Homo sapiens: one gene and its partners. The protein of the gene in region 2 purifies or fractionates together with the protein of the main gene of each other region. This does not show direct contact. Each region holds a gene or a part of one and is shown on either strand. Other genes may lie near its edges. The genes, in order: BORA, NXF2, YTHDC1 and MEIOC.

Evidence for each region.
Region 1: the proteins of NXF2 (region 2) and BORA purify together in Homo sapiens (affinity purification with mass spectrometry, with the first as the bait; 2 studies listed by BioGRID). This does not show direct contact.
Region 3: the proteins of NXF2 (region 2) and YTHDC1 purify together in Homo sapiens (affinity purification with mass spectrometry, with the first as the bait; 2 studies listed by BioGRID). This does not show direct contact.
Region 4: the proteins of NXF2 (region 2) and MEIOC purify together in Homo sapiens (affinity purification with mass spectrometry, with the first as the bait; 2 studies listed by BioGRID). This does not show direct contact.

The regions. Positions count from the first base shown.
Region 1 is NC_000013.11:72,751,916-72,756,722, forward strand, and holds the end of BORA (protein aurora borealis), read left to right. Parts: intron 1-253; exon of another isoform or gene 254-1,774; coding exon 1,775-1,906; exon of another isoform or gene 1,907-3,235; coding exon 3,236-3,301; 3' UTR 3,302-4,281; downstream 4,282-4,807. UniProt on the Homo sapiens protein: Required for the activation of AURKA at the onset of mitosis.
Region 2 is NC_000023.11:102,313,135-102,320,167, forward strand, and holds part of NXF2 (nuclear RNA export factor 2), read left to right. Parts: intron 1-3,828; coding exon 3,829-4,018; intron 4,019-4,244; coding exon 4,245-4,395; intron 4,396-4,698; coding exon 4,699-4,782; intron 4,783-4,893; coding exon 4,894-4,998; intron 4,999-5,113; coding exon 5,114-5,194; intron 5,195-5,380; coding exon 5,381-5,450; intron 5,451-5,606; coding exon 5,607-5,695; intron 5,696-5,815; coding exon 5,816-5,923; intron 5,924-6,102; coding exon 6,103-6,212; intron 6,213-7,033. UniProt on the Homo sapiens protein: Involved in the export of mRNA from the nucleus to the cytoplasm.
Region 3 is NC_000004.12:68,326,086-68,333,118, reverse strand, and holds part of YTHDC1 (YTH domain-containing protein 1), read left to right. Parts: intron 1-271; coding exon 272-325; intron 326-921; coding exon 922-1,016; intron 1,017-2,808; coding exon 2,809-2,917; intron 2,918-2,999; coding exon 3,000-3,117; intron 3,118-7,033. UniProt on the Homo sapiens protein: Regulator of alternative splicing that specifically recognizes and binds N6-methyladenosine (m6A)-containing RNAs.
Region 4 is NC_000017.11:44,652,462-44,659,499, reverse strand, and holds the start of MEIOC (meiosis-specific coiled-coil domain-containing protein MEIOC), read right to left. Parts: upstream 3,033-7,038; 5' UTR 2,887-3,032; coding exon 2,818-2,886; intron 2,374-2,817; coding exon 2,239-2,373; intron 1-2,238. UniProt on the Homo sapiens protein: Is required for meiosis completion in both male and female germ cells. Confers stability to numerous meiotic mRNAs in gonads allowing proper initiation and progression into meiosis prophase I.

The DNA of each region.
Region 1 (4,807 bases), on a different chromosome or scaffold from region 2:
TCCTTTGAATGGTAACAAACAAGGGGGACTGAGAATGATGAGGGAAGGGCTAAAGTGCTGGGCCCAGATGTCAAGGAATGTTATCACAGGGCACAACTGTTGCCAATTGAAAGTTTTAAAAGACAATGACATCTGATTTATGTGGTAGAAAAATAAATTTAGTAACAAAGTGCATGTTAAATGACTGACATAGAGACACCATTTAAAGGCACCATGACCCAACTGGAATATAAAGTTTGCAATTAGAACCAAGTTTGAATTAGAGTTCTTTTATTTCCAGGCTGTGGGATCTTAAGGCAAGATTTACATAGCAGTGAATAGAACATGACTTTTTAATTTTTGTCCCCTCATCCTTCTTAGCTATAAAGTGAGATTGATGCCTGCCTTGATGCCTGTGGGGGATAACAAGGTATCTGTTGCCTGGTTGGTACATATTAGGCATTGACATTAGCAGAAGTCTAGATGAGAGACAGTGAAGTCAGCCACCATCTCAACTTGGCTCTCATCAATCCTGCTCTTCCCATAGTGTGGGACAAACTCCCCGCATGCCTTACTTCCTGCTGTACTAATGAGTAACTCTTCCCTCCATATATATCCAGTTACATATTAGTATTGCATTATAAGCCAGCTATTTGGCAGTGATGAATATTAGAAGGAAGAGCTATTGGCAGAATCTCTGGGAGCAATCTGACATTTATATTTTTGATCAAGTAGCTATTGAATGATAGCAGAACAAGGCTTTTCCCCAAAAATGTTACACATCACAAGGCTTTTGTTCTAATTGGAACATGACCTCTAGTAGTAAGCAGATATGTATCCAGCCTTGAAATCTGGGAACATTTTTTCAGGATTATTAAGTGATAAAGAGTGCCGTTTCTAGGCTAGTCTGTACCTTTGTGAGGGAAACAAAATGACAGTCAGCTTTTTCCTTCCCTCTGATCCTAACTTGCAGGGAGGGCTTAAATGCAAAATGATTCCCTTGTGGATTGCTTTCTTTGGTGCTCAGCATTATACAGGTAAATGGAGCGTTGTGCAGTGAACAGAACCTGGACTTAGGTCTCACATCTTCATCACCTCATCACTGGATGACATTGTGAAAGTTAAGCTTTTTAAGCCTTAATTTCCTTCTCTAGTAAAGTATTAGGGTTGTTGAAAGGAGAAAAAAATATTAAATATATAGAGATAGTGCCTGGCCTTTTTAGACACTCAATAAATGTTTCCAAGCTGGAAGTTCGCTAGAATCTTTCTTTTTTGCTCTTTTGCACTGAAACAGTGTATCTTAGGATGCTACAATTTTTATTAACATGAAAAGCTGAACTAACATCTAGAGCCATTATATATGTGGCATTATTGTGAACAACTAGGTGTAAATATAATATAATCCACTTTTTTAAAGGCAGCATGCCTCAAGCCATTTAGAGACAAGCCTGGAAAATGCGTTGGAAGGTGAAGTTAGTTGTAATACTCATTTTTGTCTACTAGGTACGATCACAAAATAACAGGAAAGCATTGTGTCAGTAGGCTGTTCACTGATTCTTAAGGAAGTTACAAGATATATTTCATTGGAAGGAATTGTAAAATGACTACAATAATCAGTACTATGCAGGACTACCTTTTATATTTGTGCATTACTTTTGAATTTTGTTCAACATGATCAATATTACATGTTAGGATCATTCAGATGTAGTGAATGAGAGTTTATAGTGGTTTACTTATTTAAATATTTGACTTTTAAGTTCCTCACAATATATTTTTTTCTTTTTTCTCCTGTCAGATGGATAGTGGCTATAATACGCAGAATTGTGGAAGCAATATTATGGATACAGTTGGGGCAGAAAGTTACTGCAAAGAAAGTGATGCACAAACATGTGAAGTTGAGAGTAAATCTCAAGCATTTAATATGAAGGTACGGAGAAAATATAGTGAAAGCTTAATATTGTTTAGATTAGAAATATAAAATAATTTTGATTATTAGACAATAGTACTATTGAGAAACTATATGAAATTTAAAACACTAAAAGGTAAGCCTGTTTTCTTAACATCCAATAACCTTTAAATATTTTGGTTACTCTGAATACACAAGTATCTTACATACTACAAAGTGTGCAAAGGTAGCGTGTATTTGATGAGGGCATTTACTGAACCTTCCAGGTGGTGGTTATATATTCATACTTGAAGAAACTCATCATAATTTCAGGCACTAGTCAGGACAGTCTTTAATTTTATGTGCCAATTTTTTTTGCATTTTATTTTTTTGTAGAGACAGGGCCTGCTGTGTTGCCCAGGCTGGTCTCAAACTCCTGGTGTCAAGCAGTCTTTCTGCCTCAGCCTCGCAAAGTGCTGCGCGATTACAGGCATGAGCCAACATGCCCAGCCTTGTATGCCGTTTCTTTTTTTTCTTTTTTTTTTTTTTTGAGACAGGGTCTTACTCTGTCACCCGGGCTGGAGTGCAGTCGTAGAATCAGATCACTACAGCCTTTAACTGCTGGGCTCAAGCAATCCTCCTGCCTCACCCTCCTGAGTAGCTAGAACTACAGGTGTGAACCACCTTGCCCTGCTGTTATATGCCAGTTTCTTATAAAATACTATAAATATCAGCAAATGTGCAACAAATGTTTAATAGGGAGGCCACCTTAGTTTTCCTTTCTGTTGTATGTAGTAGGAGCAAACTGCCTTTCTGTTGTATGTAGTATCAGAGCAGGTCTCTTCTAATATTAACCTGAACAAAATCCATCCTATTTCAGGATGCAGTTGTCTATCTAAACATAAGTAGAGATAAATGAAGGATTTTTTTAAATTTTATTATTTTATTTTTTTTGAGACAAGGTCTCATTCTGTCACCCAGGCTAGAGTGTAGTGGCACGACCACAGCTCACTGTAGCCTTCACCTCCCAGACTCAAGCAGTCTTACCACCTCAGCCTCCTGAGTAGCTAGGGCTACAGGCATGTGCCACCACACCCAGCTTTTTAAAATTTTTGGTAGAGACAGGGTCTCACTATGTTGCCAGGGCTAGTCCCAAACTCCTGGGCTCGTGCGATCCTCCCACCTTGGCCTCTCAAAGTGTTGGGATGCTTTTTGATGCAGAATATTGATTTATAAAATACTGTATCTTTACTGTCCCTTCAGAGTTCAGCTAAAGAAACGTGCTTTTAGGTTTTAAAAACAGTCCCGATAATTGCATCCTCCAGTGGTCCTACTTAAACTGAAAACAAGGTATTGTCTTCTTTTTCACAGCAAGACCACACAACACAGAGGTGTTGGATGAAAACAGCAAGCCCTTTTCAATGCAGCAGTCCATAGAATGCCTCTGTCAGAATCAAAGACTAAGCTTAAGAGTTCCTCGCATATATCGTTGTGCACAGGATCAACATGATGGTGACTGGGAAAAAATTACTTCAAGTAACATGCTTAGCTTTCCCTCCTTAATGTGAAAAATCAAGGGCTTACTGACATAGGAACAACAGAAATGCTCCTGGAACTTCAAGTTGCTGAATTATAAGTTTATTTTTTATCAATAAATATTTTTATACTTACATTGAGTGATGTGTTTAACAACAAATTGTGACAGAGCTGAGTGCTCCTATCTTACAGGGTCAATGAACTACTTATTAAGCCTTACTGGTAGCACTGAATTTAGCAGTTCTGAGAACATGTGAAACTATGTTAAAACTGAAGGCACTATATATTTTTACATAAAAGCTTGAACATACAGATGAATTATAACCTATGTGAAGAAATCTTAGATATAAAACTAACTTTTCAAAGATACAAAAGAAATTAAACAGGTTTCCTGAAATTTTAGTTCTTGGTCTGTTCACCTCTGTGGGGAAAATTCTTAGTTCCAGTGATAACTGTTCTAGTTACTACTTTTAAGTATGTAAATACTAGAAAGGTAGTACTAGTGACATCATCACGTGTATTGTTATCTATGGGGCAAATGTGTGGTGCCCAGAATAAAATATACCTCATGCCTAGGGTAGGGACATCCTTTCCAGCTCAAACGTGGGTAGGGATGTGGGAGAATAAGAATGTGGGAGAACCAAGAGAAAAAGTGGGGCTGGGAGAGTGGAGTTCCCGTAGGGCATAGGCCTGTGAAGTAACACTGGGGCAGATATGTATGTTATATACAACTATTTTTTTAAAAAACTTATATCCATGTTGGGAGTAGATGGGTATATAACAGTTTGGAAATACTATCTTTGGAGAATGTATTTTTGTATTTATAAATCAACTTTTAAAAACTGTCTCATTCAAAAGGGAATAAAGACCTGTGTTATCAATGTGTCATTTTCTTCTTTCCTCCATAACTGTACCTTGAAACCTTACTGCTGACCTGCAGAAAATGTGCCGCGTTATGTACCTGGCTCATCTTCAACACACTAACCATGAACACTAATAGCCATTAGGGGACATGGCTACAGATACTACATTGGAAAGTTGTCTTTAATCACACAGGTGTTAAACTCAATATAAATTTACCTAAAAACAATTGCTATACCTAAAAGGAGTTCTGGGTACTAAGGGTAGAAGCCTCACTGGCTACAGTTTTTTAATAGTACAAAAGTCAAGAAATAACACAATAGTGACTATAACCTGTATTCAAATCCCTACTCTGTCACTACTTGATCTGGGCTGATATGGTATGGCTCTGTGTCCTCACCCAAATCTAACCTTGAATTGTAGCAATCCCCACGTGTCAAGGGTGGGACCAGGTGGAGGTAACTGGATCATGGGGGCGGTTTCCTCCATGCTGTTCCTGTGATAGTGAGCCGGTCTCATGAGATCTGAAGGTTTTATAAGCGTCTG
Region 2 (7,033 bases):
TTTTCACCCTGTATGTCAGGTACTCATGCCCCTTCCTTGCCATGTCTACTTCATTGCAAGGGCAGTCATTTCTACTTCTCCCTTTGACAATATCAGCCACTCTCTGGTCCCGTCATCCTTCTGTCCCAAAGGACCTGTAAAGCACAGCCGTATAATTATATGTATATATTTAGACAGAGAGTGATATATGTAATAAATTCGAAAAGTGAAACGTCTGGATCAAAGTGTAAGAATGACTTCTGAATGGTTAGGCATATTGCAGAAAATTAGACTCACACACGGTTAGTGGAAGTGTATATTGGTGTAAATATCATTGAAAATCCTTACGAAAATATCACTTTATGCTTAAAAGTACTCATGTGCTTCTCCTGGGAAACTGTAGAGCAGGGACTCAAAATCTTAAACCCACTTCGAAGCCCTGGCTGTGTTCCACTGGGTTTTTTGGCCACCCCTGCTGGGGGTACTCTGTAACCCTGGTCAACCTGTGGGTATTGTTCCATTACTTTTGTGTACAGGGAACTCTCCTACTTTCTTATTTTAAAACTATCAGTTCAAATATTAAAACACCGAGAGGTAGAAAAGAAAAAAAGCACTAAAAAGCATATTCTGAACAAGAAACAAAATTTGGCCATATATAATACATAACACATGAAAAGAAATGTGCAGTGGGATCCAGTGTTGTGTGGCAATGTGTTTACCAACATGATTTGGAGTACATGTATCTGTAACCTAATTGTGGAAGCATGTAATACGAAACACTAATACTTGCTCGCATGGGCAACACGGACACACAGACCACACATTCTTCCCTTTCTCTGAGACAGGGATGATGCTTCCTGTCTGTCACAAGGCTGAGTGAACACAACATGCCTGTAGGTCCAGAACATTCTTCCTACAGAGACCAGATGTCCAGAAAGCCCTATCTGCTGGATTCAGGGAACGCCTCTCCTCATTTCTGTCAGCACTATTTGCAAAAGCCTCCTTCTCTGAGATCTTCAAAGCTGCAGTTCTAGCCACAGTCTGCAGGGAGGTACTCAGTTCTATTTCTAAGGATACATTAATGAAAAAATATTAATGTTGCAGAAGAAAAGATTAATTTGTTCTAGTTTTGCAGTCAGGTTATGAAATAGTTCTGCAGCCCGAATAGCTCTGGAATAAATATAAATAGAGGTCGGTAGAAATGGTTCAGATGGATGTATTCTCAAAAGTGGTTTTGTCGATGATCCCAAACCTACATCAAATGCATTCATTTAACAAATATTAATTAGGCCCTTATTCTATGCCAGACACTACCAGCCCAAAGTGACTCCTAATCTGAAAACCCATGGCCCAAACAGATTACACCCATCTGGTCCAAGACAGAGATCTCCACCTTATCCAAGACACCTGGTTCCCACCCCAACAGGAGTGACTAGCACAAAACATCATCCCGGCCTGCTTACAAAAAAATCTGTCGATGAGACCTGAAAGCTTGCCATTTAAGGGAGAACCAGTGCAGTCTCTGGAGGAGCACTCAGGGTATAGAGGCAGACCAATATACGTGAGGACATAATTCCTGTTCTGCCACTTACCTGGCTGGGAAATGTACCCGACATCTGTGAACCCAATATTCATGATCTGAAAAGGGACTGTGGATAAAATTCTCATGGGATTTCTGTGAGGAGGTCAAGAGAAACCTAGTGAGTCTGCCCAACACTGAGCAGATGTTGGTTGCCACTGGGCAAGGGTTGGTTTTCTTCTTATCCCGTTCTTTCCCTGCCGTAGCAGGGATGCTGATGCCATGCACTCAGTGGCATGGCAGTGATGTAGGCAGAATTCCAAACTAACACAGGAAGTACCAGTAGGAACACACGTGATGTCATAAAGGTTACTCACCACTATGTCTGTGTGGGGGGATCAGCCAGTACATGGTGGGACTTGAGGGGAAACCCAGGCGGTCTGGGTGAGAAGTACTAGCTGCTTTATAATACTCTTGAGATCGCCCGTAATTCTGGCAGCACAACTGCGAGACAGGGATTGTGCTGAGATGCCAGAGTTCAGCAAGTGGATGTACGCCTGTGTGTGTTGTGTCTTCGGCATCTCTCTCTGTCCGGTCCCTCTGTGGCTTTTTATCACATGTGCTCTCTTCCAACACAAGGCCTTGCCTGAGGCTGTAGCTGTAGCTGTTGGCTAGCTTACACTTTTACACCTTCTTCCCCTCAGTGACGTTATTTCTGAAGTAATGTGTGTTCTCAAAAATGACTCTGACTCTTCCTGTGCTCCATATATTGACCGTGTGCCCTTAACCCTCACTTTAATCTTTGATTTTTTTCCCTTTCATTTATGGACTTTCATGAAAATGAGTTGGTTTCTGGACATCCTCCAAATGTCACCAATAGGGGTCTTTGTTGTTGTTGTTGCTGTTGTTGAGTATTGTTATGGACTCATAACTTTTTAACATACTGATGGGCTCCAAACCGCGGTTAAAGGATTTTGAGTAAAGGAATGACAAGATTTGACTTATGCCTTAAAAAATCACTCTGCCTCCTGTGTTGAAAATAGATGGTAGGGGAGTCAAGGGCAAAAGCAGGACAACTTGGAAGGCAGCATAATCCAGGAGACAGATGTTGGTGACCTGGCCAGGGTAGGTAGCAATGGAGGGGGTGAGAAGTGGCCAGACTCTGGATATATTTTAAAGGTAGAGCCAAGAGAAGATACATCCATCCTGATCGGTTGGATGTAGAGTGTGAGAGAAAGAGAGCACTCCAGCCCCACTTCCAAGTTGTAGGGACCAAGCATCAGGAATGTCTAGGTCAGATGCTCTGCCCACATTTAATTTCACTTCTAATGGCACACAGGGAAAGTCCCAGCAATCGAGAGGAGCAGGACTGTCCTGACAGCGGGTCACACACAGTGAAAGCAATGATGCCCCCTACAGAAGTTCATCTGAGGCCTGGCCATAATCAGTATATTGCAGAGAGGTCAGCAGTGACCGAAATTTTATTCATAAGAGTGCCCTGAGACAAGGTGTACATTTTGAAATTGGTCGAGGTCTGTTTGATGGTCCAGGAGATGGTCTACCTTCGTGAATGCTGCAAGACAGTAGAGGGGGAAAAAACATACATGCTCTGTTTTTGTTGTTGGGTACAGTGTGTTGGGTACGGTGTTTTATTTATGTCATTTAGATCCTGTTACTGTAGTGGTTTTCAGTATCTGCTGATTTTCTTTCCAGTAATTCTGTCACTTGCTTAGGAAGAGTTGTCTCTTGGGCTGAAAGCATTTCGGGCTGGGCAAAAAGAAAGCTTGCTCTGGGTATTTCAAACTGAGTATTTTTGAGGGCAAGGCTGGAGGCAGGAGGGCAGCTTGGGAAGCTGTTACATCGGACCCACCTGTCATTAAAGCTCGTACTGCACTGGCAAAGAGGTATAGCTTGCTGATTGTTCACAGAATGCATTTGGGGATTGGATTTGGGAGGTGCGAGAGAGCTTGTCTCCCAGGTGTTGGTGTGGTTGTTAGATTAGAGAAGCCTGAGAGAAGGCAAGATTAGGACCCCTTCCAGGTGTGTGGCTGGTGTCTAGTCTAACCCATGGACACGCGCACCTCTGTTCTTTATAATTCCTGCTCCATTTCTCAGGAGGTTCAACACAGTTGCTTCCTCTCCCAAGATTCCTACCCTGATTGTGCCACCTGTGAGATAAGGCTCTTGTATCTGGACAGGCAGAGGAGTTTGTTTTCTGGGGCTTATGTGGCGGGTTGGCACTTTGCTAGCCCTACCATGGAGTTAGCTCACGACGTGGTACGTGGTAAGTGGACCATTGATGTGTCTCAAACTTGTCTTTTTGTTCTCAGTTGCAGAATGCCATGACCATGGTAGCACTTTTCAAGGAAGAAAGAAAGGTGGGAGTTCTTTCCGGGATAATTTTGACAAGAGGAGCTGTCATTATGAACATGGTGGGTATGAGCGCCCGCCTTCACACTGCCAGGAGAATGATGGAAGCGTGGAGATGAGGGATGTCCACAAGGACCAACAACTAAGACAGTAAGTGACCAGGCAGCCTGGTTTGCACGTAGCAGCCCCCGGGACTGTGCAACCCTTTCATTCTCTGTGGTCTTCCTTTTCTTCTCTCATTAGAGAACTGACGAATGCTGGAAGTGGAATAGTGGCTGAGCAGTCCTAATTGTAGCCCTGGCGTCAGTGAGTGGAGCATGTATAGGAGACTTTCTTAGATTTAATGGATACCCGCCTTCTCTCCTCTTCCCCACAGCACTCCTTATAGCATCCGATGCGAAAGAAGAATGAAATGGCATAGTGAAGACGAAATCCGTATTACCACGTGGAGAAATAGAAAACCTCCGGAGAGAAAAATGAGTCAGAACACACAGGATGGATACACAAGGAACTGGTTTAAGGTCACAGTGAGTATCTTGGTGGGGTCTGCATTAGGTGGACTATTCTGGAACCTGATAGAAGGAAGACCACTTAAAACACCCTAAGTTGATTATTTGGAGGAGAGCTTCGGAATGGGGGGAAAGGGAGTTTAGGGCATCTATATTTGGCACAAAAATAAGAAATCATGTCAGCGGTCCTTTCTTTAGAAATCTAAGCTAAGTAGAAGGTTGGAAAGAAAGAAAAAAAAAACCCAGCTGGTTGGTTCTGTTCTCCATCCTTAGTTCCACGTTGTCTCTCCCTTCCCTCCTATTTCTTCTTTTTACCCTTAGATTCCTTACGGGATAAAGTATGACAAGGCATGGCTAATGAATTCAATCCAGAGCCATTGCAGTGACCGCTTCACTCCGGTTGATGTAAGAGAGGATGGTGAAGCCAGATGAGTGGGCATGGGGGACGGGGAGAGGCCTGGCTCAGCAGGGGCCATTGGCCTCTGACGCTGTTGCTCTTGCCTTCACTCCCTGTAGTTCCACTACGTCCGAAATCGGGCATGCTTCTTTGTCCAGGATGCTAGCGCTGCCTCCGCATTGAAGGATGTCAGTTATAAGATTTATGATGATGAGAACCAAAAGGTGTGTGCCGAGGGCATGCCCTGTACTTAGTCTCTGGGCAGGAGGACAGGCCAGGGGGCTGGTCATCCTCTTTGGGATTAGAGGTCCTGGTACTTACCACCCTGCCTTCCTGCAGATATGTATATTTGTCAATCATTCTACTGCGCCCTACTCTGTGAAGAATAAGTTGAAGCCAGGCCAAATGGAGATGCTAAAGGTAATACAGACTCAAGGATCATTGTATGCCTGCTTCCTGGACCCACCTCTTCTTCCCCTGGCCCCCTCTTTCCCTGTCACCACCACCACCACCACCACCACCACCACCACCACCACCACCATCACCACCACCACCACCACCATCACCAGAGCCCCAGAGCCTCTGTCTTCATCTCTATCTCTGCAGCTGACCATGAACAAACGGTACAATGTCTCCCAGCAAGCTCTTGATCTCCAGAATCTCCGCTTTGACCCAGGTAAGGCTGACAGCAGCAATTCTAAGACAAGCGGGGGCAGAGAGGTCTGCCTGGGAGGGAGACTTAGGAATGGCAATTTACAGAGGGGTTGGGGCTGGCTCTGGTCCAGCCAGGGCCCTCCCAGCCTTCCGATTCCCTTCTCTTGGCTTCTTCAAGACTTGATGGGCCGTGACATTGATATAATCCTGAATCGAAGAAACTGCATGGCTGCCACCCTGAAGATCATTGAAAGAAATTTCCCTGAGGTGAAGCCTTAGGCTCAGTGCTGGTATTTAGTTAGAGGGGTGGAAGGGATAAGGTGGAGGGCAGATTTGTCTCTGAGGCCCAAGATAGTAGCCGCCACTCTAACTCTTCTTGACCCAAAGCTGTTGTCTTTGAACTTGTGCAACAACAAGCTGTACCAGCTGGATGGCCTTTCTGACATTACAGAGAAGGCTCCCAAAGTCAAGACCCTGAATCTCTCCAAAAATAAGGTGAGAAGGGGGAGCCAGATCAACTTTGGGTGGAGGGCAGGACACATCAGGATAATGGCAACAGCCAGGCAGTGGCACCTGTGGGTGACTATGAGGGCCGGGGGAATTCAGGGCCCAGGGTCCTGGGTGTCTCTCTTTCCCTGGCCCTCCTTCTCCAGTTTCCTCCCCATCTTTCTTAGCTGGAGTCGGCGTGGGAGTTGGGCAAGGTGAAAGGGCTGAAGCTCGAAGAGCTATGGCTAGAAGGGAACCCGTTGTGCAGCACCTTCTCGGACCAGTCCGCCTATGTAAGGTCAGTGGCAACCCCGGTCACCCTTCCTGGGCACCTTTGCTCCCTGGGTGACTGAGCTGTGTCTGAAGGTGCCCTTCTGCAGGAAGAAGCAGCCTTGGTCCTCTGGGAGGACCACAGACCTCCCTTCCTACTCTCTCTCTCTCTCTCTCTCTCTCCTCTCTCTCTGTCACTCACTCATCTGTGCTTAGAGGTCTCCTTTCCTTCCTCTGACATGGTCCCCTTTTCACCTGCTCTGGGGTGTGTTTCCCGCCTGTCTCCACCAAGCCTCCTCCAGTGTGCCCTCTGTGAGTGTGCTCCAGGAAGTGGGGCTCCCCCACCTCCCCAGGACCAGCAGTATTCAGATGCTGGTGCCCTGGACCGAGAAGAGTCCTTTAGTCCGGGGCTTCATGCTGAGACAGGCCTTCCTGCCTCCATGCTGCGATGGGGCTTCCCTCCCCTGTCCCAAGAGGGGTTCTCCTTCTCTTGCTCCAAAAAGGTCCCCCCACCTGTCCTGGGCTGGCATGGGGGCTTCCCTGCCCCATACTGAGGGCTGGGGCCCCGGGTGGCTGCTGTCATGCCATCTCTTCCTCTGGCCCAATGCCAGGAGCTGGGCCCTCCTTGGGGAGAAACCTGGGTTTCCTACGTCAAGGGGCCAGAAGCGGGCCACGTTCCTGAGGCAGGAGTGGAAGGCAGAGGGCAGAGGAGGTTGAGAAGACAGAAGGACAGGCCTCTCAGGGCACTGCCCCACCTTCCCTCCTTCTCCACCTCACATCGTCCTGCCTGGGCCCTCAGAGGAGCCCTGGGTAGCCCGAGATGGGTAGCATTCCTCGGTCAAGGCGTCA
Region 3 (7,033 bases), on a different chromosome or scaffold from region 2:
GTGGAATTTTCACTTTTTTTTTCTTGGAAGATGATGATTCAGTGACTAGTTTTCTGAGTGGGAAACTGTTCAAATATACATACTTTTAAAAAAATCCAAACAACCCAAAAAGCAAAACACTCGTACACATTGAGAAGTTTTTTTTGTGTGTGTGGGTGCGCCAGGAAGAATAATTTGTCTTGAATGAGAATTTTATGTGACAAGACTGTAGAAATTTTGTCTTATCTCTATTAAAGCTCAATCTGAACAAATGTACTTTGGCTAAATACAGGTTCAGAAAAGAAGCATGAGAAATTATCATCTTCCGTTCGTGCTGTCCGAAAAGGTATCATTTAAATTTGAAATTGTTTTCATTGCATGCTGCATAGTCATTATTTTTCCTTATTGGTTCTCCATTAATAGCTGCTTTTAATGTAGTAATGTTCCGATATATTACATGAAGCAAAAAATAATATCTTAACATAGAAAGCTCTGTGTCTGCTTCTTACTGCATATTTTTTAGAATAATACCAAACATTTCAGGATATTTTAGTTTTTGGACAAAATGGGATGGGTGTGTGTGTGTATGTGTGTATGTGTTATATATAGATGTGTGTGTATATATATGTATGTATATAATGGTCTGTTATTCTTGAATCTGAGTAAGAAAATCTATAAAACTTGGTAACCATTTTCATACTTAAATATGGATTTGATATATCGGAACATCACTAGGTTAGGTTTACTTTCTTGCAATATGCTGATTGTCTTTTCTTAGCTTTGCTTTATTACATGTGGCTTAGCCTTCCAGGTTGAATGGGTGATTGTTGCGTTTTAAAAGTTTAGCTGGGTTGTGGAGGGCTAATTTCAGTTAGTACAGTTTTGACCCCTTTGTGTGATAATGGCTTGTGGTTAATCGATTTGGGTTTCTTTTTTTTTCAGATCAAACCAGTAAACTCAAATATGTGCTTCAAGATGCAAGATTTTTCCTCATAAAGAGTAACAACCATGAGAATGTGTCTCTTGCCAAAGCGAAGGTATTAGCATCAGTTCTGTTGAAACTATCCTAATATCAAAATTTTTAAATGGGAAAATAGACTTGTATTATATCAAGTAGCATAGGTATTATGATTTTCATTACGGCTTTAAAGATCTACATTCCAATGGCCACTTAGGATCTGGTTGTAGTCAGTCAGCCTACTTGTAATTTGAGTTTTCTTTTTTTTTTTTTAAGATGATTTTAGGGGTCAGAATATTAAATGTTGAAGGCTATACAGTTTAACTTTTTGCTGTAAAAGATCCTGTTTCTGTTGATTTTTGTTTCTGTACTTCCTCAGTGGCTCATTTATTGTGCTAACACTTCTAAAAGTACCTGTAGTTAACCAATTTTTGTTTTATGTTGATGCTTGATTTACACTTTGAGGTTCTTTTGAAATCATTCTTTTATGGAGAGTTTTATTTTTTAGAATTAAGATCATTGGGATTTAGAAGAAAAAGAATTAGCTTAAAGATCCACTCCAGACTTTGCAAAAAAGATATGCATAGTTGCTGTAGGATGTTGTAAGATAATAATTTTCTTTTTATGTTTGGCTACAAAAATACATTTTTGTGTTACACTAGCTGTTACAGTGTTTTGCTATTCTTGGTTTAAACTGAGTAACTACAGTTTCAACTGATTTTCAGAAACTTAAAACTAAAGTTAGACATTTCTCTAATGATATTTCTGTCAGTATTCTATATTTCTACCTTAAGGACTACCCCTAAAACTTTACAAACAGAAGGAAACAGTACACCAAATAGCCTTATTCTGTTCTCTAGCTTAAGTGGATTTAGGCAGAAGTACACTTGGCCCTCGGTATCCACAGGGTTCCTCATCTTTCGATTTAACTAACTGGATTGAAATATTAGGGGAAAAAGGAATGAGAAATAATAAAACAGAAAATACAAACTTAAACACAGTATAACAACTATTCACATAGCATTTACATTGTATTAGGTATAAGTATTCTAGAGGTGATTTAAAGTATATGGGAGTATATGCATGGGTTATACGCAAATACTGTGCCATTTTATATAAGGGACTTGAGCATCCTCAGATTTTGGTATCTGCATGGGTCCTGGAACCAGTCCCCAGTGGAGACTGAGGAACAACTGTAAGCACTTAGTTTGAATGAGATGTCATTTGTATGAGCAGATGGTGTGAGCTGAATGATAGCATCTGCCTTATTATTCCATTTCTTTTTATCTGTTATGAATGAAGAATTGGTTAAAATGCTTTAGAAATTAACAAATATCTTCCAGCTGTAGGTAAAACGTAGGCCTCTTCAGTCAAACTATTGATACATAAAAATTTGAACTTAAAAACTGCTTTAAAAAACGAACTTAAATAGAAAAATGCTAGATTCTTGACTAATAGAGTAATTTTAAATTATTTGATCAGGTACGGTTTTGCAAGAAGACTAACTTCTAAGTGGCGATTCACCTTCAAACAGGATGTATTTACCACAGTAAATGGTTGTAATATTAAAATAATTGTAGTGATTGGTTTTACTATATAGAATTCTAGTCCCTTAGATTTGAACCTCATCTCCATCTATTTACTACTTGCTTTAATGGTTTTGTAAAATTGGTAATTGTCTCCATTTTTTCCCTTAGGTTTTTATAAATTATTACTACGTTATTCTGACAGCTGATAAATAAAACCTTTCTTCATTATAGCTTACTTAAATTGAAAGCACACCAAAATATGTAGTTTTTTTTCAAACATAACTGGAAACACAAAAGAGTTGTAGTTAATTTCACTTTGTGGTCTTTATGTTATTTATGTAGGGTGTATGGTCCACGCTCCCTGTAAATGAGAAGAAATTAAATCTTGCATTTAGATCTGCAAGGAGTGTTATCTTAATATTTTCTGTCAGAGAGAGTGGAAAATTTCAAGGTAAGAATAAAAATAATTTGGACATATAAAAACATTAATTATATTAGCATCTACATATTATATTATGATATGATTCTCTTAGGGTTTGCAAGACTTTCTTCAGAATCACATCACGGAGGATCTCCTATACACTGGGTGCTTCCAGCAGGAATGAGTGCTAAAATGCTGGGAGGTGTCTTTAAAATTGACTGGATTTGCAGGTAAATTATACACTTCAGTATAGATAACTGAAATTTTGAATACACTACCAGTTTAGAATAATGTGTTAAAGTGAAAAAGTCACTGTATACTTATCTTACCTTGTTCAGTAACTACCTTTATCTAATGTGGGACACAACAAAGGCGTATTTAGTCTAAAGTTACATGTATTTGATTTGTTTTGTATATTAGTAATAAAGCAGTAAATGAATTGGACAGTTGCTTGAAATGTTGTCTGGCGTATCTGTATAATTTTAGTGATTTAACATGTCACTTAAGTTATTGAGGAATGGGAAATAAGTACTATGACTTGGCTAACAATTTCGGAGGTAACTAGTTTAGTCGTGGACAGTATTTTTTAAGGAGGTTAGCAAATGATGTTTAGTTGCCATTGTGATCTTCTGAAACTGAGTTAAGATTTAACTGTATTTATTAGAAAAATAATCAGGCTTATTTTGAACACTGAGTTGTCACTATTTTTAGGTCCTTACTGCACACTGAAGTATTGTACACAAGAAGCTCATTATTTAAGTGATCTTTACGTGGCATACACAAATGTATTACCTGTAAAATTAATTTTAGTTAAAAAGTGTCTGAAAGGAGATGGTTACTTTGTGAGTTTTAAGTTGTTTTTGGGTATTAGATCTTGATGAGCCTGAAGGGGTCGGATGAAAAAGAAGAAAAATGCTATGCATATGATGGAAATCAGCCTAAGCCAAGAAGAGCATGGAAACAAACTATGGGGTTGCAGGGTTGTGGGGAGCAGTGGGAGGGCATATGGATGTGTGAGTGGGATAGGGAGCTACCTTTTTTTATGAAGGAGATGGTTAGGAAAAGAGAAGAACAGAGGGCAAAGATGGATAAGAATGAATGAATGTGAGTCAGCCTAAATGTTTATTGTAGGATAGTGAGGAGCTGTGAAGATAGAGGGAGTGATATATTACAAATAGCATACAGTCACTTACTGTGTAGTGACATACCCATCAACAAAGAATCTTGTCCCATAAGACTGTAGGACTCGTAAGAGGTACCTATAATACCATATTTTACTATACCTTTTCTATGTTTAGATACACAAGTATTTTCCATTGTGTTACATTTACCTACACTATTCAATACAGTAACATGCTGTGCAGATTTGTAGGCTAGGAGAAACAGGTCATACCATATATCCTAGGTATGTAGTAGGCTATACCATTTAGGTTTGTGTAAGTGCATTCTGTGATGTTCACACAATGAAATCACCTAATGAGTGTATCCCTGTCATTAAGTGACACATAACTGTATTAGGTTGATAATAGCGTAGCAAAAAGCTATGTGCAGAAAAAATACTCATCCCATTATTACTTTCTGTGGGAAAGAGTTGGAAATCATCTAAATTCTTTGAAATAGAAAATTAGTTAAATTATAGTTTGTCTCTTAAATATATGTGGAAGTAATTGTGCACATATCAACATGGAAAGGTATAACAAATGAAAAAATACATAATTATGGTATTGGAATGCAGTGTTAGGTGGTGAGACTGTTAGTGCTTTCTCCCACTTCCTCTCTGTTGCCCCCAGGGGTTTTAAAATATAAACTTGGTTTTTTTGAAATCAAAATTATAATTAAGTTATAATTAAAGTTGAAAATCTGGTGACAATTTGTAGGAAAGGGAGTGATTATTTTTATTTTGTGTGTGTATGTGACTGCTCTGTAAAGGCCAGAGGAAACGTTGTAATGTAACATATTTGCAGGTGTTGCTTTCTTGGGAACAGGAGAGAAAATAATTGCCCATTTTTATGTGGGTTGCAGCAGATTTTGTTTCAAATGTTATTTGTTCTGTTAACCTTCATTTTTACATTACTGATAAGGAAATTCTTAATTTTAAGATGAATTTAATTTTTCATGGATTATTCATTCTTCATATTCCTCTTCATTGACTTATTGACTATTCTACTAATTTGTTTGAAATGTATCAAGCAACCGAAGAGGTAGACAGACTCAATTTGTCTATCCTACTAACGTGAGGTGTAAAATTGTGGGCAGTAAAGTGCTTTTATTATTTTAAAGTAAGTTTATGGGTTTACCTAGAAATAGTATTTTTACATAATAAAACTATAGTTTTAATGTTTTAATACTCAAGTTCTATTCAAGTGTAATTTTACAATACTTTACAGTTCTGGAGGGCTTGTGATATTTCTAACATTGATATTTCCTTAGATAAGTCACTTGAACTCTCTTGAGTTTAAATTCTCTCTATATAGTGAGAATTACATTTGAGTCTCAGAACATTTAAATTTAATAAATAGAAATGGTCAGGACTTTGCTATCAACAGTAACTGCTGTTAATATTTTTTTCTTTTGCAGATATAATAATTATTAGATTTATATTTAAGGACCCTTTGGATATAATAATAACTAGACTTAAGCTTTTTTAGGTGTGATCCCTGGATCACTTACATCAGTAGCATCTGACTGTTAAAATGCAGAATCTTGAAACCCACCTCAAACCTGTTAAATTCTTGATGGTTCAGGTAGTTGGTAGGCACATGGAAGATTGGGACCAGATAAGTGTCATGTTTTAGCTGATAAAGAGAGGGAGGCATAAAAAGCGACTTATTAAGGTTGCCACCTGTAATTAGCTCAAAATAAGGCATGATCTATGAAATACTATTCATCCAGAGTTACATTTACTGACTAGGTGTTATATTCCTTTCATGTCCATTCCAAACAACCCATTTCTGTTTTCATTTAGAGTCTCTCCATTTTTCTTTTCTTTTCTTTTGAGACGGAGTTTCGCTCTTGTTGCCCAGGCTAGAGTGCAATGGCGCAATCTCGGCTCACCACAACTTCCGCCTCCCGGGTTCAAGCGATTCTTCTGCCTCAGCCTCCCTAGTAGCTGGGATTACAGGCATGTGCCACCACGCCCGGCTAATTTTTTATTTTTAGTAGAGACGGGGTTTCTCCATGTTGGTTAGGCTGGTCTCGAACTCCCGACCTCAGGTGATCCGCCCGCCTCAGCCTCCCAAAGTGCTGGGATTACTACAGGCATGAGCCACTGCGCCCGGCCTCCATTTTTCTTTTTAACTTTAATCAACAAACCACTGTCCAGCATATAAGAGCCTCTGCATGGCTGGGCGCAGTGGTTCATGCCTGTAATCCCAGCACTTTGGGAGGCTGAGGTGGGTGCATCACTTGAGGCCAGGAGTTCGAGACTAGCATGGCCAACATGGTGAAACCCCGTCTCTACTAAAAATGCAAAAATTAGCCAGATGTGGTGGCGCATGCCTGTAGTCCCAGCTACATGGGAGGCTGAGGCATGAGAATCCCTTGAACTCAGGAGGCGGAGGTTGCAGCAAGCCGAGATCATGCAGCTGCACTCCAGTCTGGGTAACAGAGTGAGACTGTGTCTCAAAACAAAAAACTGTGCACAGTTTTACATTCTTTGTTAAATTTGCCCTATTTGCAGAACCACTTAGGTCAGAGAGTCCCTTACATGTTCTCAAAGAACTCACAGTAAAGATAAGTTGTATCTGTATGCTTCATAACATAGCTGCTCAGAAGGTAACTGTTAGGTTGCTTGTTCTATGATTGTGATCTGAGAAGAAAGGATAAAATAAGGATGCTACATGGATCACAGACCCTGCAATTTTTCTTAATTTATTCTGAGCCCTGTTTTGCCTCAGGCTTCACAGTTTTCTGTGATGTTCTGGCTGAGATTAACTGTGTTGAAACAGTGAACAGATGTCTCTTGAATCTAGTTGGAACCAGTGCCACCAAAGAATCTCAACCCCAAATGATACATTTAGCTTGGCCTATGCTTTTACTTCTACTTGGATCGTGGGTATTTAATTGCTGATATTTAAATAACAGTGATAATCCCATTAATTTATAACCTTCTTATATTTTGGTGGCTGTAGGTTTTCATTTATGCCT
Region 4 (7,038 bases), on a different chromosome or scaffold from region 2:
AATATCTGCATCCCTTTCGTTAACAGAGGCCAGGAAATATGCAAATATTTGAGTGGGCATATTAACTGGATTAACTTTAAAATGTATCACTTATATCCTTAACATACTTAAAACAGTGAACTGAAATTAAATCCAAATAAATTTTAGTCCGGATGTAAACACTGCAGAGAGCAGTGGAACTATGGTCTGGGTTCCACTTGAGCTTTGTCATTTAGGGCACAAATCAAGCTCTCTGAGGCTCAGTTTCTCAATCTGTACAGTGGCATAATAATATACAAGATTCTTAGTGTGGATTAAATAAAATAATTTATTTCTAGATATTGTTATAATTCAAAGTACAACAATATCAACATTGATGTCCTGGTTAAATAATTTCAAATGAAAATTACTTACATTACCCAAGCTTTATTTCCTTTGATTAATAAATCTAAATGTCTTGGTGAGGTAAGTGGTAGCATATAATTTAAGACATTGTTAAAACCAGAAAATAAAGGAGTAAAGTGAAATTTTCACCTTTAAATTATCAAAAATATGTTTGTACCAACTTGCAATAAATGCCTGAACGAAAAAAAACATATTTTAATCTTACTAAATAATGGATTTTCTTACATTTCTGGAATTATGTTATGCTAAGGACAAGATGGAAACGAATCAATGAAAAATCTTATTCTTCAATTTGTTTTCTTTTTTCTTTTTTTTTTTTTTTTGAGAGGGAGTCTCACTCTGTCACCCAGGCTGGAGTGCAGTGGCATGATCTTGGCTCACTGCAACCTCCACCTCCCTGGTTTAAGATTCTCCTGCCTCAGTCTCCCAAGTAGCTGGGATTACAGGTGCCTGCCCCCACACCCGGCTGATTTTTGTATTTTTAGTAGAGATGGGGTTTCGCCATGTTGGCCAGGCTGGTCTTGAACTCCCGAACTCAGGTGATCCACCCGCCTCAGCCCCCCAGAGTGCTGGGATTACAGGCACGAGCCATGGCGCCCGGCCCTTAACTTATTTTCAAAGCAAAGTATGTATTCTGCAAACACTGTATTTAAAAGATTGTAGCCGGGCGCGGTGGCTCACGCCTGTAATCCCAGCACTTTGGGAGGCTGAGGCGAGCGGATCACGAGGTCAGGAGATCGAGACCATACTGGCTAACACAGTGAAACCCCGTATCTACTAAAAATACAAAAAAATTAGCCGGGCGTGGTGGCGGGTGCCTGTAGTCCCAGCTACTCGGGAGGCTGAGGCAGGAGAATGGCGTGAACCTGGGAGGTGGAGCTTGCAGTGAGCGGAGATTGCGTCACTGCACTCCAGCCTGGGCGACAGAGCAAGACTCCGTCTCAAAAAAAAAAAAAAAAAATTGTTCCTGGGCTGGGCGCTGTGGCCTGAAATCCTAGCACTTTGGGAGGCCGAGGCGGGAGGATGGCTGGAGCCCAGAAGTTCGAGACCAGCCTGGGGAACATGGTGAAACCCGGTCTCTAAAAACAATACAAAAATTAGCCGGGCATGATGGCAGGTGCCTGTAATCCCAGCTACTGGGGAGGCTGAGACGGAAGAACTGCTTGAACCAGGGAGACAGAGGTTGCAGTGATCCGAGATCGCACCACTGCACTCCAGCCTGGGCAACAGAAGGAGACTCCGTCTCAAAAAACAAAACAAAACGGCTGGACGCGGTGGCTCATGCCTGTAATCCCAGCACTTTGGGAGGCCGAGGTGCGCGGATCACCCGAGGTTGGGAGTTCGAGACCAGCCTGACCAACATGGAGAAACCCTGTCTCTACTAAAAATACAAAATTAGCCAGGCGTGGTGGCGCATGCCTGTAATCCCAGCTACTCCGGAGGCTGAGGCAGGAGAATAACTTGAGCCCCGGAGGCAGAGGTTGAGGTGAGCCGAGATCGCACCACTGCACTCCAGCCTGGGCAACAAGAGCAAAACTCCATCTCAAAAACAAAAAACAAAAACAAAACAAACAAAAAAAACAGCCGGGCGTGGTGGCGCGTGCCTCAGGAAGCTGAGGCACAAGAATCGCCTGAGCCCGGCTGGCGGAGGTTGCAGTGAGCCGAGATGGCGCCACTGCACTCCAGCCTAGGAGACAGAGCAAGACTCTGTCTCAAAAAAAAAAAAAAAAAAAAAAAGTTTTCCCTGGTTTTCTCTTCCTTAACTGTGGAGCCATTAAACACCTATGAATCGGTGGCTCGAGTAAATCCATTTGAGAATAAATCGTCTAACAGAGGCAGAGTTTACTAAAGGACCTGCGATGTGTAGCAATCGTAGAAGGAAGCGGAGCCAGTCAACATCACGCTGCCGAAGACGTCGGTTAACCTGCTGCCGGCGTCGGCGCCGAGGTTCCAACAGCGATTCGCACCTCCGGGGAACGCGACTTTGGGCTGCAGCACACGGGAATAGGAAATATCAGAAAGTGGTCACGAGGGTGACGCCGGAGCTGAAACGGCCCGACACCTGTTCTACCTCGGCTGTTCGGCTCAATTCCGAACCCTCTCAGAGGACACGAATGTGGGGGCCCGCGCTTCCAGCCTCGGGATTCTCACTCTCCCCTCGGGCCCCCTGAGTGCTGACCCCGAGGGGCGCCCCTCCCCGGCCACCGCCTCAGCGCGACGGCTGCCTCCCGGGAATCGCGGCGACCCGCGCTCCGTCCGGCCCGTCCAGTCAGCCCGCGCCGCGCCCCCCGCCCGCCCGCCCCGTTCGGCCTCCCCACCGACGACCCGCCTCTGCCGCCCCGTCTAGGGACGCGCCCCCTCCTCAGCCTCTCCTCCTCGTCGCCTCTTGCAAGTCTGGCCGCCCCCTGGACCCTGCCCTTCCTCATCCATTACCTCAAGTCCTTCCTCCCTCAGGCCTGAGGGGTGAGGGCGCGGGCAGGTGTCTCCGCGTCTCACCTCCATGGGGCGCCCCCCAGCCTCTCCTGGACTAGGCACAGCTCCTGGGGTACGGGGGTGATGGGGGGGGCGTCCAGGCCCGGCTCCCTCAGCCCGCACCCCGCCGTCTCCGCAGCCGCCTCCGCCGCCCGGGCGCTGCCTGGAGCCAGTGTGCGGGTAAGGGAAGTCCGAGCGGGGAGGGAGGGGCGGGGGCAGAGGCCGTTACCTGGCCTGCCTGGGGCTCGCGGCTCGGCACGCGACACGGCACAGGCGCGCCCCGCCCCGCTGTGAGGCCCGCCCCTCCCGTTTCGCAGCCCGCCATTGGTCCGATGCCCATCCAATGGGCGACCACTCCAGGCTCCGTTACCCCCCAGAGACAAGGAGAGGAAGGGGCGGTTAGCGGACCACGCTCTCTCGCCGCTTCTGAGCTTTTCCCGCTCAAAGTAAATGTGTTCGGGATTGGCCCGGACTGGCAGGCACCGGCCCGATGATTTGCTGATAGGGCAGCGGAGAGGCCGGTCGTGGAAGGTTGAAAGAGCTAAAGAGCGCAGCCCTACCGGGTGGGAGAGGTGTTGGAGGCACTTGGAAGATTTGAGAAGTCGCTCAGCAACTGGCTTATCCTCCAAAACCTAGCTGTTGCGCACATTTCATTTGTCCGACATTTCATATTTGTTCCTTAGTCCCTCCCGTAGCTTCAGAATCCGTTGGAGCTGCCCAGAGACTGATATATCTTGTACCGGTTTGGGGAGGGCGAGGAGCAACTTGTGGATTGGGTGTTGCTGGGAGACCCCTTTTTGAGGGAGAGCTGCCCTGTGTCCTAAGCCCGGGCTTTCAGTCCGGGTTAAGGCATTTAAGTGTTAATGTGACTTTTGAACAAAGTTCGCTGTGACCTTTTTGTTCGTTTTTGTTTGTCTGTGTAAAACAGGGTCTTGCTCTGTCGCCCAGGCTGGAGTGCAGTGGCGCTATCATAGCTCGTTGCAGCCTTGAACTCCCGGGTTCAAGCGACCCTCCCGCCTCAGCCTCCCGAGTAGCTGGGGCTGCAGGCACGCGGCGCCACCACTCCTGGCTAATTTTTTAATTTTTTTGTAAAGCTGAAGGGCGGGGGGGTTGGGTCTCCTTATGTTGCCCAGGCTGGTCTCAAACTCCTGGTCTCGAGCGATCCTCCCGCCTCAGCCTCCCGAGTAGTTGGGGCTACAGGCGCGTGCCACCACTCCCAGCTAATTTTTTTTTTTTTTTTTTTTTTGGTGAGATGGAGTCTCACTGTCGCCAGGCTAGAGTGCGGTGGCGCAAAGGCTCACTGCAACCTCCGCCTCCCGGGTTCAAGCGATTCTCCCGCCTCAGCCTCCCGAGTAGCTAGGACTACAGGCCCACGCCACCACGCCCCGCTAATTTTTGTATTTTTAGTAGAGACGGGAATTTCACCATGTTGTCCAGGATGGTCTCGATCTCTTGACCTCGTGATCCGCCCGCCTCGGCCTCCCAAAATTCTGGGATTACAGGCGTGAGCCACGGCGCCTGGCCCTAGCTAATTTTTTAATTTTTTTGTAGAGCTGGGGTTGGAGGTGGGGATGGGGGTAGGGGGTTGGATCTCCTTATGTTGCTCAGGCTGGTCTTGAACTGAACTCTTGGCCTGAAGTGATCCTCCGCCTCGGCCTCCCAAAGTGTGGGATTACAGGTGAGAGCTTACATAAACAAGCCATTCCAGGCACCCAACAAACCATTCACATAGCAGTCAGATTGGGGATGTGATGGTCTCAGAGAAATGCTAGTTTTTGTCCCTAGACACTGCTAAAAAATCAGATAGTTGAAATATAAAAGAAGTAAACACAGTAAGCACCTTTAGGCTGTTTTTATATTTAAAATCAAAACTTGAGAAATGAGCACTTAAGTGGAAGATACTGTTTTAACTCAGACACGAATGGAAGTAGGAGGATGAGTTTTATTGACCCATATTGTCCTGATAGTTACTTCAGGTCTCTACTCAGCTTTGAGTTCAGAAAGCTCACCAAGGCTGGGCGCAGTGGCTTGTGCCTGTAATCCCAGCACTTTGGGAGGCCGAGGCAGGAGGATTGCTTGAGCCCAGGAGTTGCCCAGCCAGGGCAACATAAGGAGACTTCGTCTCTACAAAAAAATTAACAATTAGTTGGGTGTGGTGGTGTGTGCCTGTAGTCCCAGGTACCTGCACTTGGGAGGCTGAGATGGGAGGATCGCCTGAGCTGGAGAGTTGGAGGATGCAGTGAGCCATAATCACTCCATCACACTCCAGCCTGGGCAACAGAGCAAGACCCTGTTTCAAAAAAAAAAAAAAAAAAAAAGGAAGAAAGAAAAGAAAAAAAGCTGCTGGACTCACACCTGTAATCCCAGCATTTAGGGAAGCAAAGGCAGGAGGATAGATTGAGCCCAGGAGTTTGAGATTTGCCTGGGGAATATAGTGCTCCACAAAAAGGAAAAACAAAATGTGCATGCACACACACACACACACACACAAACACACACACACGCACACACACTTAAAAAAAGCTGACCAGGTGGTGTGGCTCTAACAGTTACATTTCTCTGCCTCAGCCTTAAAGTTGCTGGTGTAGGGCTCATTGCATTGAGGACTACTGGCTTTTTCCCCCTCTCCTATACTCCCTAGAAGCATTTTGAAAAGCTATGAATCCCCTTATGTATTTTTATAGTAAAATATACATAAGATTTGTCGTTTTTAAGTGTTTGGTTAAGTGGCATTAAGCACATTCATAATGTTGTGTAACCATGACCGCTCTACAGTTTCAGAACTTCATTAATCACAAACAGAAACTCTGCAGCATCCCATAAATAATTATTCCCCATGCCCCCTTCTCCCAGTTCTGGCAACCACCATTCTACTTTCTATCTCTATGAATTTGACTACTCTAGGTACCATATATAAGTGGAATCATACAATATTTATCCTTTTGTGCCTGGCTTATTTTACTAAGGTAAAATAAACCTTGTCATCAAGGTTCCTTCATGTTATAGCATATACCTGAATGTCATTCCTTTTTATGGCTGACTAAGGTTCCATTGTATGGATATACCACATTTTGTTCAAGCATTCATCTGTTTATGGACACATGGGTGGTTTCCACCTTTTTTTTTTTTTTTTGAGTCAGAGTCTTGCTCTGTGCTGCAGGCTGGAGTGCAGGCGCAATCTTGGCTCACTGCAACCTCCCCCTTATCGGAGGAATCGTTCAGATGATTCTCCTGCCTCAGCTTCCCCAGGAGCTGGGATTACAGGCATGTGCCACCAAACCTGGCTAATTTTTTTTTTTTTTTGAGACAGAGTCTTGCTCTGTCACCCAGGTTGGAGTGCAGTGGCATGATCTCAGCTCACTGCAACCTCTGCCTCCTGGGTTCAAGTGATTCTCCTGTCTCAGCCTCCTGAGTAGCTGGGATTACAGGCATGAATCACCATGCCTGGCTGATTTTTGTATTTTTAGTAGAGACAGGGTTTTGCCATGTTGGACAGGCTGGCCTCGAACTCCTGACCTCTGGTGATCCGCCTGCCTCAGCCTCCCACAGTGCTGGGATTACAGGTTTGAGCCACCGTGCCCCGCCTAATTTTTGTATTTTTAATAGAAATGGGATCTCACCATGTTGGCCAGGGTGTTCTCGACCTCTTGACCTCAAGTGATCTGCCTGCCTTGACCTCTCAAAGTGATTACAGGCATGAGTCACCGCGCTTGGCTCTCAACTTTTCACTATTGTGCGTAGTACTGCTAGAAACATTGGTGTACAAGTATTTGATTAATTTTTTTTCCAATTATTTTGGGTATATACCTAAGAGTGGTATTGTTGGGACATATGGTAATTGTATTCGATGTCTTGAGTAATTCCAAAATGTTTTACACTGTGGCTGCACCATTTTACATTCTCACCAACAATGCATGAGAGTTCCCATTTCTCCACATCCTCACCAACACTTGTTATTTTCTTTTTCTTTTTCTTTCTTTCTTTCTTTTTTTTTTTTTGAGACAGAGTCTCCCTCTGTCACCCAGCCTGGAGTAGAGTGGCACGATCTTGGTTCATTGTAACCTCTGCCTCCCAGGTTCAAGGGATTTTCATGCCTCAGCCTCCCGAGTAGCTGGGATTACAGGCACGCACAACCACGCCTGGCTAAATTTTTGTATTTTTAGTAGAGACAGGGTTTTTCCA